Linked DNA regions of Homo sapiens. The protein of the gene in region 2 interacts with the protein of the main gene of each other region in a biochemical or structural test. Each region holds a gene or a part of one and is shown on either strand. Other genes may lie near its edges.

Region 1 (3,654 bases), on a different chromosome or scaffold from region 2:
ACCTTATCTCTTCTGCTCCAACCACCTATAACTGCCTCTCACAGTTTGGTTTAACTGAAAAATGATAAAAGGGAAAACCTGTCTTCTTTGTATCTATTAATAATTTTATAGAGTTTAAGCAAAACCTTACCTAGAATGCAAACCTTTGGTAAAGTATCAATCTGTATAAAATAGCCATCAAATTTATATAGGTTTAAACAAACATTTTGATTGTAGTTTTTCCTCCAATAATCTTCAATAATGAACTTGACATTGAATTACTTTCATGAAACACAGATCCCCTCCATATTGGTTAAATACCAATATGGAGATCTCAATAGGGAGATCTCCAAAGATTAGTACAGAAACTATGAACTATCATCAGAGTGTAATAAATTACATACTAGTGTTATCTCATAACAATATAATTCAGCACACTATGACCCTAAGAAAAACAGGAAAGAAACAAACTCCTCAAATTATAAGCAAAACTTTCACATTTTTTAAACCTTTGCATTCTTAAACAAACCACATTGTCTTCAATATGCTTTAATCTCATATAGAAATTTTCAGTCTTTTGAACATTATCTTTCAGATTTTTTTCTTATATGAATTTCACAGAGTTTCACCCCAAAAGTTAAATAATGTTTGTATTACCTAGTTTCTCTTTGCAAATAAAAGATTCTGGTAGCAGCTGCAATCTTTTCACACTTCTAATCTCATTGTTGATTTTTAGTGTAGCTGTAAATAAACAAAAGAAAGATGATAAAGAATTCTGTCACTTCATCAACTGCCTTTCTTTTTTAGTATGGGCTTGCATTTCCTAGCTCCTAATATACTAAGGACACATTATACAAAACAAACTGTTCTTCGCCTATTTCTTTCTCTGATAGCAAGTTCAAAAGTGTAAACCTGGCATCACATGAAGTAAAATCACTCTACAACACCACCTTTAAAAACTACAGTAAGCATCTTTATATAAAATCCACTAGGCAGCAGCTTATTAGTAACTTAAAGATATGCAACAAGGTTAATCAGAGGCAACTAAACACAATAAAATCATTATTTCTAATGAAGTCACTAAAAACTCCATTTATTTTTTATTTAACCCTTGGCAATGAGTCTTCCTTTGTTCATTAAAATAATCTTGCTAGTTTTCACAGCATCATCTCTCTTCCAGACCCAAAGGATAAATATACTTGACATCACCAGAGGGTTCAATTTTAATCATGTATACAAAGGCGCACTTCATCTCATTCCATGAAAGAGCCCAGTGATGTGCTTATGCACATGTGCACCAAGCAGGATGCCTTGGGTGAAGGAAAGATTTAAAGACACACTGCTCCTTTTCAAAGAATCAATCCTGGAACGGCTGGCTGCCATGCAAGTCTGCCAAGAGCTGATTTGCCAAGAACAGTAAAGAAACAAAACATCAGAAATTAGGAAATCATCAAGACATTCAGCAGTTATTCTTTTTATATTAAGTATCCTGAATCTAGTGAATAGAGGTTATTATACACGTCATTAAGTGCTTTTATAAAAAATCAAGGCAAAATTTGCAACTACACATTTACTATTTGGTAACTCCAACCTTGCAAGTTATGATGTGATGTAGCAGAATGATTAGATGAAGGCAGAAACTGTTGACACTCTGTGTACAAGAATGCCAAAGTAAAAGCTACATTTGCTAATTATGATGAACTGCTGAATAGACATTGCTAGGTCCTAGTGTCATCAGACAGTCATGTCCTGACAAATGTGAAGTACCACCAAAGCTATTAAACCTAGTTTTGAGACTTTTAAATAACATTTCAAAGAATCTTATGACTAAAGAAATAGAAATTTCGTAAGAGGCCAGGCATGGTTCACACCTGTAATCCCAGCACTTTGGGAAGTCAAGGCAGGAATATTGCTTCAAACCCAGGAGTTTGAGACCAGCCTGGGCAACACAGTGACACTTCATCTCTACAAAAAATAAAATAAAAAATAGCCAGGTGTGGTGGTACACGCCTGTGGTCCTAGCTACTCAGGAGGCCAAGGAGGAAGACTGCTTGAGCCTAGGAGGTCAAGGATGCAATGATCCATGCTCTGCCTACTGCACTCCAGCCTGGGCGACAGAGCAAGACCCTGTCTCAAAAAAAAGAAAAAAGAAACTTTGTAAGAGGGGAATGAGAACTATCCAACATGTCAAAGATCAAGATGGCATGAGTCAGTAGCTTTCAAAATAGATTTTAGCAGGAAAAAAAAAAACCAACATTTTTTCAAACAGAATCTTACACAGAACTTCAATAAATGAAACAGATAAACATTTTGCTGCTCAAGGTTTAAGTGGTGATAGGGCTTCTACCTAACTTTCATCTCAGCAGAAAGGAGTAGCTACAGAACATACTGAAAACCTCTGACCTAAACCTTTGACCTAAGGCTTACCAAAGCAACTGCCTTTGCTAAACGAAAAAGATGAGCTATACTGAATAAAAAAACAACAAACGCAGCCCTCCCAATCTTACCACGCTATCTTTCTAACTAAAAGGATAAATCTCAAAAAACAAAACAGAACAAAAATGAAAGCTCCTAGTCATTCAAATGGATCTCCAGTATGTGTGATTATGACAGAACACTAGGAGTTGATATGAAACAAAGTGGTACCTGAACTAAAACACAGAGATGGAATGCATTGCTATTCCAGTGAAATTTCTTAATATGAAAAATAAACAGGAAAAGTTATTCATACAGAGTGACATTTGTTGGGGGAGGCCCAGCAAATAAAACACATACTTACTAAGGCCCCAGTAAACTTAGCATTGTTGTTGTGCATTGCTGGTCACAGGGATGCCAACTTGGATAAATGGTGACCCCAGGTCTAGCTCCCCATGTCTCAGTTCAAGACCTTCGTTAAAAAAATAAAGCCATCCACAGGCATAAAGAAAAAGTATTCTCCAAGGAGTTCATGTGTAATAGGCTCATTTCACTCCTATTATCAAATACTGATAATATTGGATAATATTAAATATTATCCCCCAGAGCAAAATATTACAAAGATTAAGACATCAAAAAAATGGATGCCCTAAGAATGAAGGGTGCTGGCCTAAACAACTCAACAACCTCATATTCCATGATCTTCCAGACACATGTTATCAGTGGCCTAGGAATTAAATACAGTTGAGAAGGACTCACAACTGTATCATGATAGCCAATCACTGAAGTGGCTATAAAACATTTGGAAAGAAACGTCTAAGAATCCATAAACCAGCAACCATGACTATGCTATCCAATTACCATTTACAACAATCAGGTTTCCCAAAGGCACACAGGTGAGAGTAGCGGAGCTGCCCTCGCAGAGAGGATGCATGTACTGCAGCTTATACACCCCGCTCAACTTCCACTTCTCCGGCATGGACAGTGCTTTGGCTTCGGTGCCCTGGGGAACGAAATGAAAGGGAAACAAATAATGAAGAAAGGTGTTACTCTCAAAAAGATTAAAAATCCAAAAGACTCCTAACTTGTTTGAAATAATCACTCCACACAGTCCTCTTAATAAAATGCATCAAATCATTAACATTGCCAATATATTTTATATTGTAGGATAACCATATTGTATAAGATAATATATTAGAACACTTTTAATCAAAATTTTTGTTCAAATAGGTAAAACTGCATCATGGAAACAGGGATTGA
Region 2 (3,654 bases):
GAAGCAGCCCCCTTCTCTAGATCAGTTCAAAACAGGGAAGGCTGTAGACAACTGTTTACTGAATAAGAGAGATTTAAATGAAGCAATGTATCCTTTAACTTTTATGGAGAAGGACGCAAAGGTCAAGTTATAATTAAAAGCTAGGAACTTTGTATATAATACAAAAAGAAATTCGATTTATATTATTAAATGTCAATGTACCAATTAGCCTTCTGTACTGAACCATCTATTTATTGACCTGTTTCTAACCCAGTGAACAACAGTCACGTTAAATTCACGCTGAAAGGGCCATATTTCTCCCTACAGAAAAAGTCTGGCATAAGTAAGGGTTCATGGGATCGTTATTGATAAAAAGGATGGTTCATTTCGATGACTGAGCAACATGCATCCTATTCCTTTTTTTTTTTTTTTTTTTTGAGACGGAGTCTCACTCTGTCGCCCAGGCTGGAGTGCAGTGGCGTGATCTCGGCTCACTGCAACCTCCACTTCCCAGGTTCAAGCGATTCTCCTGCCTCAGCCTCCTGAGTAGCTGGGACCACAGGTGCACACTACCACGCCTGGCTAATTTTTGTATTTTCAGTAGAGACAGGGTTTCACCATGTTGGCCAGGATGGTCTCATTCTCCTGACCTCGTGATCCACCCACCTCAGCTTCCCAAAGTGCTGGGATTACAGGCGTGAGCCACCACGCCCAGCCGAAGCATCCTATTCTTTCTCCTTGTCAGCACAGAACAGACCTCAGTACAGATACCAGTAATAAAAAAGCTGAAATACAGTAATTCCAAACAAAATAATCTGAAAACTATAGCATATATACCATCTTTTCCTTCCTTCCTCCCTCCCCTGCCTCTTCGCCCCTCTGCCTCTCTCTCTTTTCTCCTCCTCGCCCCCACCCCCACCACTGTCCTTTTCTCCTTCCTCCTCCCTCTCCTCTCTGTCCTCATGCCTGGCCTATAGTATCTTCTCATACAGCTTTGGGTGAGGGAAAAAAGAAGTTATAAGCCAATAGTTTCCCAACTGCCAAGTTACTTCTTCATAATTTTTAGGCTTAAGTTGTGGTAGGCCTGTGATTCAAGGCTGAACTCTTTAAGGGATCTGTTTGGCTTTCTTATCTATAAGCTAGTTGGGAAGGACAGAAATCATAACTTGGTATAAGATCCAAATTTTCAGCCAGGTGCAGGGGTTCATGCCTGTAATCTCAGTGCTGTGGGAGGATCACTTGAGGCCAGGAGTTCGAGGTTGCAGCGAGCTATGATCATGCCACTGCACTCCAGCCAGAGCAAAATAATAATAAAAATATTACCCAAATTTCTGAGTCCCTACAACAGGCTTTTATTATGGACCTGAAGTAATGGAGGAAACTTCTATATTCACTGTAAATGACGAGTTGATACTTCCTGCTTCAATTATGTGCAGCAAAGTCTTTATACCTGACACTAGTTAGCCTGATTTAGCCTCACTTTATGAAATGAGTAGGGAAGTATGGAATAGACTCAGTTTGGAGATCTTAACACAAAATGCATCTCAATATAGGTCTGAAATAGAAATCTTTGCAGGAGAGGACCACCCATCATTTCAATCCATTTATCTCTCTCTGCTTCAGAAAGGCCTCCCCTGACCACTCAAACACCCTTTAACCCATCAGTCACCCCCTACTCCCTAGTGCCTGAACTTTCATTATAGTGCTTATCACTACCTGAAATTCTATTATTTTAACTTGTTTTTTGTCTTTGTTCCCCACAAGAGCTTGAGGACCTTGTCCCGTTTATCCCCATATTCTCAGCCAGGTCTGACACATACTAAATATTACATAAATATTTGTTGAATGAATGAAAGAATCACAAACTACTCATAATTCCTCTCATTAAAATACTCCATATCTACTTATTTCAATGACATATAGCATGAGGGGCTCTGAGAAGCAATTCAATTTTCATTCAATACAGAGGAAAGAAAAGAGTACTAACATCTATGGAGCACCATAATGGGCCCTGCACAATAAAAACCTCACCCATCTCAATCAGTCCTTCTAACAAGTTTATGAGCTCTACGATTCCCATATTACAGAAACAGGACCAGAGAAGAAGGGTTAAGTAATCCCTGCAAGACCCACATAACCTTTAAATGGTGGAGCTGCTGGGATCTGAACCAAATCTATCTTACTTCAGATCTAGTCTCTACCATACCACAAGGCTTCTCAAGAAGACTAAGATGTTTAACTCAGTTATACAACAATGTGTACGTTAAACTAAAGACACAAAGATGAGTAAGACATTAAAGAGTTCACAAAGTAAACACTACACTACATGAAAAGTGCCATGTAAAACAGGATGTAATGGTACTACAGTATCTTTTCATACAACTTTTGGTGAGGGGGAAAAAAGAAGTTATAAGCCAATGGGACACATAGGGGACACAGAAAGTCAAACATTGATCCAGGTAAAGAGAACATTATATTCAAAGAACTGTAAGGTGTTCAGTATAGCTAGAGTCAGAGTGGGAGGAAGCAAATAAAGAGAATGGAAGAGGGAAAGATCAGAGATGAGGCAAAGACAGTGCTTGCTCGTCTGTTCACTAATTCCTTAGGATAAGGTCCTACTATGTGCCAGGCCTTATTTTAGACAAGCATTGCAATGATGAATGAAACCTAGTCTCTGTTCAAGCAGCTTATAGTTTATCCCAGGAGATGGGCAAATACACAACTGCAACACAGAGTGGTATATGATAACATAGGTGCATTCACTGGATACTGAGATGTTCCTAGACAGAAAGAAGGTGAATCAGTCAGATTAACCAAGGCACTATATTCACAGAGACCCTTATAAGAAAGACTGCCTCAGGCTAGGCACAGTGGCTCACGCCTGTAATCCCAGCACTTTGGGAGACGGGCGGATCACCTGAGGTCAGGAGTTTGAGACCAACCTGGACAATATTGTGAAACCCCGTCTCTACTAAAAATACAAAAATTAGCCGGGAGTAGTGGTACGCGCCTATAATCCCAGCTACTTGGGAGGCTGAGGCAGGAGAATTGCTTGAACCTGGGAGGCAGAGGTTGCAGTGAGCCGAGATCATGCCATTGCACTCCAGCCTGGGCAAAAAGAGCGCAACTCCATCTCAAAAAAAAGACTGCCTCATTCAGCACAACCACCAAATGCTAAGCTCAGCTGGCCAGGTTCTGCACCAGTCTCCAGTTCTCCTCCTACCTCAAATCAAACCACAGCTGCCTAAAGCAGGGGTGGAAATATGACCAAAGACAAGACAATCCATTGGCTGAACTGAGACCTAGAATGTGGCCTACCATATGAAAAGGAGCTCTGGCACTTAGGAGTTGCACTCCAGAAGCTAAAATGATGCATAGGGAGAATCCTTGAAGCAGTCGTCAAAATATAAGAAAAAGTGGAACGGCCGGGCGTGGTGGCTCATGCCTGTAATCCCAGCACTTTGGGAGGCAGAGGCGGGCGGATCATGAGGTCAGGGGATTGAGACCATCCTGGCTAACACGGTGAAATACAAAAAATACAAAAAATACAAAAAATTAGCCGGGCGTGGTGGCGGGCGCCTGTAGTCCCAGCTACTTGGGAGGCTGAGGCAGGAGAATGGTGTGAACCCCGGGGAGCAGAGCCTGCAGTGAGCCAAGATTGCACCACCGCACTGC
Region 3 (3,654 bases), on a different chromosome or scaffold from region 2:
TACTGTTGGCCCTCCGTATCGGTGGGTTCCACATCTATAAATTCAACCAATCTTGGACTGAAAATATTTGAAAAAAATATGCATCTGTACTGTACATGTACAGACTTGTTTTCTTGTCATTATTCCCTAAACCATACAGTATGACAATTATTTACATGGTACTTACATTATATTAGGTATTATAACTAATCTAGAGATGATTTAAAGTATATAGGAGGATGTGCCAAGGTTACATGCAAATATTATGTAATTTTATATTAGTAACTTGAGTATCTAAGAATTCTGGTATCTGAGGGAGGTCCTGGAACCAATCTTCCATGAATACTGAGGGTCAACTGCATTTCTCAGGTTACTTATTTATTTTCCTATATTAAACATTCGGATTGTTATTTGATCCTCTATTATAGTAGTTCCTTTACTATTTTTTTTTTTGGCACAAAGTCTACTCTGTATCTAGGAGTCTTTCCTTCAGATACAAGACATGGAATTGTTGGATGTAAGTATACAAGCACAAGGAAAAAGAAAGCATCCAAGTTATTTCCTAGAGTTTTTTACATTTATTCCTGCCTTTCACAAATAATAGCTTTATATGTCCTTTGACATTTTCCTAAAGGTATTTTTTAATAGAAATAATGTTAAATTACTATAAAAACTCCAAATTTTACTTCTTTTTTACAGTTCTGCTAAGTAAATTTGCTTAAAAAAGAATATATGTTAGGTGATTCCAATCCTCAGGAAAGCATTTGGGTAGAGCCTCACCTCTGGTGGCCCATGAAAGGAGTAAGAGTAGAGAATGGGCTGGATCATGATGAGGGACTGGGTCAGGTCCTGCCGGGCAAAATGATGTCTGTAATATGACGACTCATCAGGACTGTTGTTAAACACTTGAAGAAATGGAGATCTTCTCAGATGGAACATAAACTGCATTCACAAAGAACGGAAAGAGAAATGCATATAATTGTAACCTTCTTAGACACCCACAGAGTAGATCTACCTCAGGGCTCTGAAATAGGAGAACCCAGAAAAGGGCTCTCTGGTTTCACAGAACAGAAAGCATAAGGGGGCACCAGGGGCTAGGGAAAGAGGAAAACTGAGAGTTGTTGCTTAATGAGCACAGAGTTTCAGCTCTGCAAAGTGAAAAATTCTAGACATCAGTTGCTCAATAATGGGAATACACGTAACACTACTCAACGGTATGCTTAAAAATGGTTAAGATGGTAAATTTTGTTATGTGTGTTTTACCACATTAAAAATTAATTTTTTTTTTTAAAGGGCCTTTGGCCAGGCGTGGTGGCTCACGCCTGTAATCCCAGCACTTTGGGAGGCCGAGGCGGGCGGATCACCTGAGGTCGGGAGTTCAAGACCAGCCTGACCAACATGGAGAAACCCCGTCTCTACTAAAAATCCAAAATTACCCGGGTGTGGTGGTGGGCGCCTGTAATCCCAGCTACTCAGGAGGCTGAGGCAGGAAAATCACTTGAACCCAGTAGGGGGAGGTTGCGGTGAGCTGAGATCAGGCCATTGCACTCCAGCCTGGGCAACAAGAGCAAAACTCCGTCTCAAAAAAATTAAAAATTAAAAATTTTTAAAAAAATACAAAATTTTTTTAAGAAAAGGGCCTCTGGGTATGTCAAAGCTTCCACAGTTAAGAGGAAAGCCAAAGAAATGTTTATTTCCAGAGTCACTGTGCCAGGCAGTGGAGACAGAATATCTGCTCTCAGAAGTCAGGCCCAGTGAGAAAGGCACACTCGGGCTACGAGTTATGAGCCAGAGTACAGGATAGCAGTGGGGAGTGGGGGTGGAGGGCCAGGAGGAGACTTCCTAGAGCTCCGGGGACTGACAGTGCACCCTGAGAGACGTGGCTGAGGAGGCCACAGGGCCAGGGGGAAGGGGATTCCAGGCACAGGAACAGCAGATGACAGCTCAGGACACAAGCTGGGATGGTGAAGTGTTGGTGCAGGGGAGAAAGGGACAAGGGATGACACTGCAACCATAGGTTCTCGCCCTCGAGGATGAGAAGAAGGGGTGGGGGCAGACTTTCAGCTCACATTAAAGAGTTGCCAGAACACGAAAATGAGCTGCCTTGTGAAGTGTAAAGCTTCCTGAGACTCCAAATATTCAATCATAGGTTCCTAAATAATAATCAAGGCTGACATCTAATACATCCTACATGCAAGTCACAAAGCACTTGACAAGAACTATTTAATCCTTCCAATAAGCCCATGAGGTAAGTTCTCTTACCATCCCTAGTTTACAGGTGAGGAAACTGAGGCACAGAGGGGCGAGCAACTTGTCCAAGGTCACCCCACTACTGAGTGTCACAGCTGGACTCTACACCTGGCCGCCTGGCTCTAGAGACTGGGCTGTTGGCCTCTTTCCTAGAATGCCTTGACAGAAGGAATCTGAGAAAGCATTTCATCTGGTTTTCAAGCTGTGCTCTTAGAGTCTTCATCAAGTCCTCAGGGGCCCAGGGATGAGGGCTCTGGTGGGACCCAGTGTGGGGGTGGTACACAGGCACAACCAGAGAAGCACCAACTCTGTCTGCTTTATGTGCTGGCTTTTAAGGGCAGCTCCTCTCAAAGAAAGGATTCCATGGCTTTAAAAAAAAAAAAAAAAAAAAAAAAAACTGCAAACCACTTCACCAGACCAACTCCCCACTGCTAGAGGTGGGAAACCAAACTCTACGGGGCTTTGGAACCTCCTCTAAGGTCAGCCCCTGCGGAGCCAGCACTGGAACCTCAACCTGACTCTGGCCGGTCCAGGGCTCTTCTCACAACACCACACAGCTTTAACCTCTGGCACATGGACACCTCAGAGTCCCAGGCACCTGCTATGGAGCTAGGTCACATTTAGTGCTGAACAGGTTACTGGCATTGTGCTAAATATTTAATACTCAGTTGGCCTCAGCTCCTGTAATCCTTATAGACACCCATGAATTGTGCTCTATTTCCTAAGTTACAATGGAGACGGAAATTCATCTACTTCTCCTGCTCCTCTCTCTTGTCCAATGGCTTCCAAAGGCTTGGTTCATGCAGAGTGCAGTTACTTTCAGGAGCTGCTTATTGCTCACTCCTGGTTATGATGCACATAATAACCACAGACATATTATTAAATATTTGTTGTACTAACTGTGGTTTTGTTTTGTTATCTTCATCTCCATGTGTGCTCATTTTCTTGGTTTGTTGCTGAGGTAGCTGTTTCCCCAGAACTTCTACACATGAGAGATATTTTTTACGGCCTTATATCAATGATCCTATTTTGCCTGTTCATGAAAATGTATGCATGAGTTTTCTCCCCTCTGCATGTCATCTCTATCTTCTGTAGGGCGTAGGGTGCTGTCTTGCCTAGACACATATTCGACTTGGGTTGAACAATCTCTGTCACCTACAGACTGAGTCTCAACACATTAAAAAGTCTTCACTTTACCCTAAGAATAAAGTTAATTTCTATCAAAATTTATTGCTCTGTAGTTATTTTAGAAACATACATTACTTACCTGAGGATATAGAGAAAAGGAATCTGATAACCTAAAAGAAGTGGGGTCTTCTTTGTTATACTGTCCAAACTTTTGACACTATGGAAAGAAAATACCAAAAAACAAACAAACACACACAAAAAGAGAGAGAAAAATCTAAGTTAGCATTACCTGGAAAT

What was found.
Region 1: of the proteins of TMED10 (region 2) and FBXO7, one has a biochemical effect on the other in vitro, tested with the Homo sapiens proteins (one large-scale study listed by BioGRID).
Region 3: the proteins of TMED10 (region 2) and SEC23B interact in a test that uses a peptide from one of them, tested with the Homo sapiens proteins (one study listed by BioGRID).

The regions. Positions count from the first base shown.
Region 1 is NC_000022.11:32,484,811-32,488,464, reverse strand, and holds part of FBXO7 (F-box only protein 7), read right to left. Parts: intron 3,398-3,654; coding exon 3,256-3,397; intron 721-3,255; coding exon 637-720; intron 1-636. UniProt on the Homo sapiens protein: Substrate recognition component of a SCF (SKP1-CUL1-F-box protein) E3 ubiquitin-protein ligase complex which mediates the ubiquitination and subsequent proteasomal degradation of target proteins and plays a role in several biological processes such as cell cycle, cell proliferation, or maintenance of chromosome stability.
Region 2 is NC_000014.9:75,166,544-75,170,197, forward strand, and holds part of TMED10 (transmembrane emp24 domain-containing protein 10 precursor), read right to left. Parts: intron 1-3,654. UniProt on the Homo sapiens protein: Cargo receptor involved in protein vesicular trafficking and quality control in the endoplasmic reticulum (ER) and Golgi.
Region 3 is NC_000020.11:18,545,876-18,549,529, reverse strand, and holds part of SEC23B (protein transport protein Sec23B), read right to left. Parts: intron 3,575-3,654; coding exon 3,497-3,574; intron 922-3,496; coding exon 760-921; intron 1-759. UniProt on the Homo sapiens protein: Component of the coat protein complex II (COPII) which promotes the formation of transport vesicles from the endoplasmic reticulum (ER).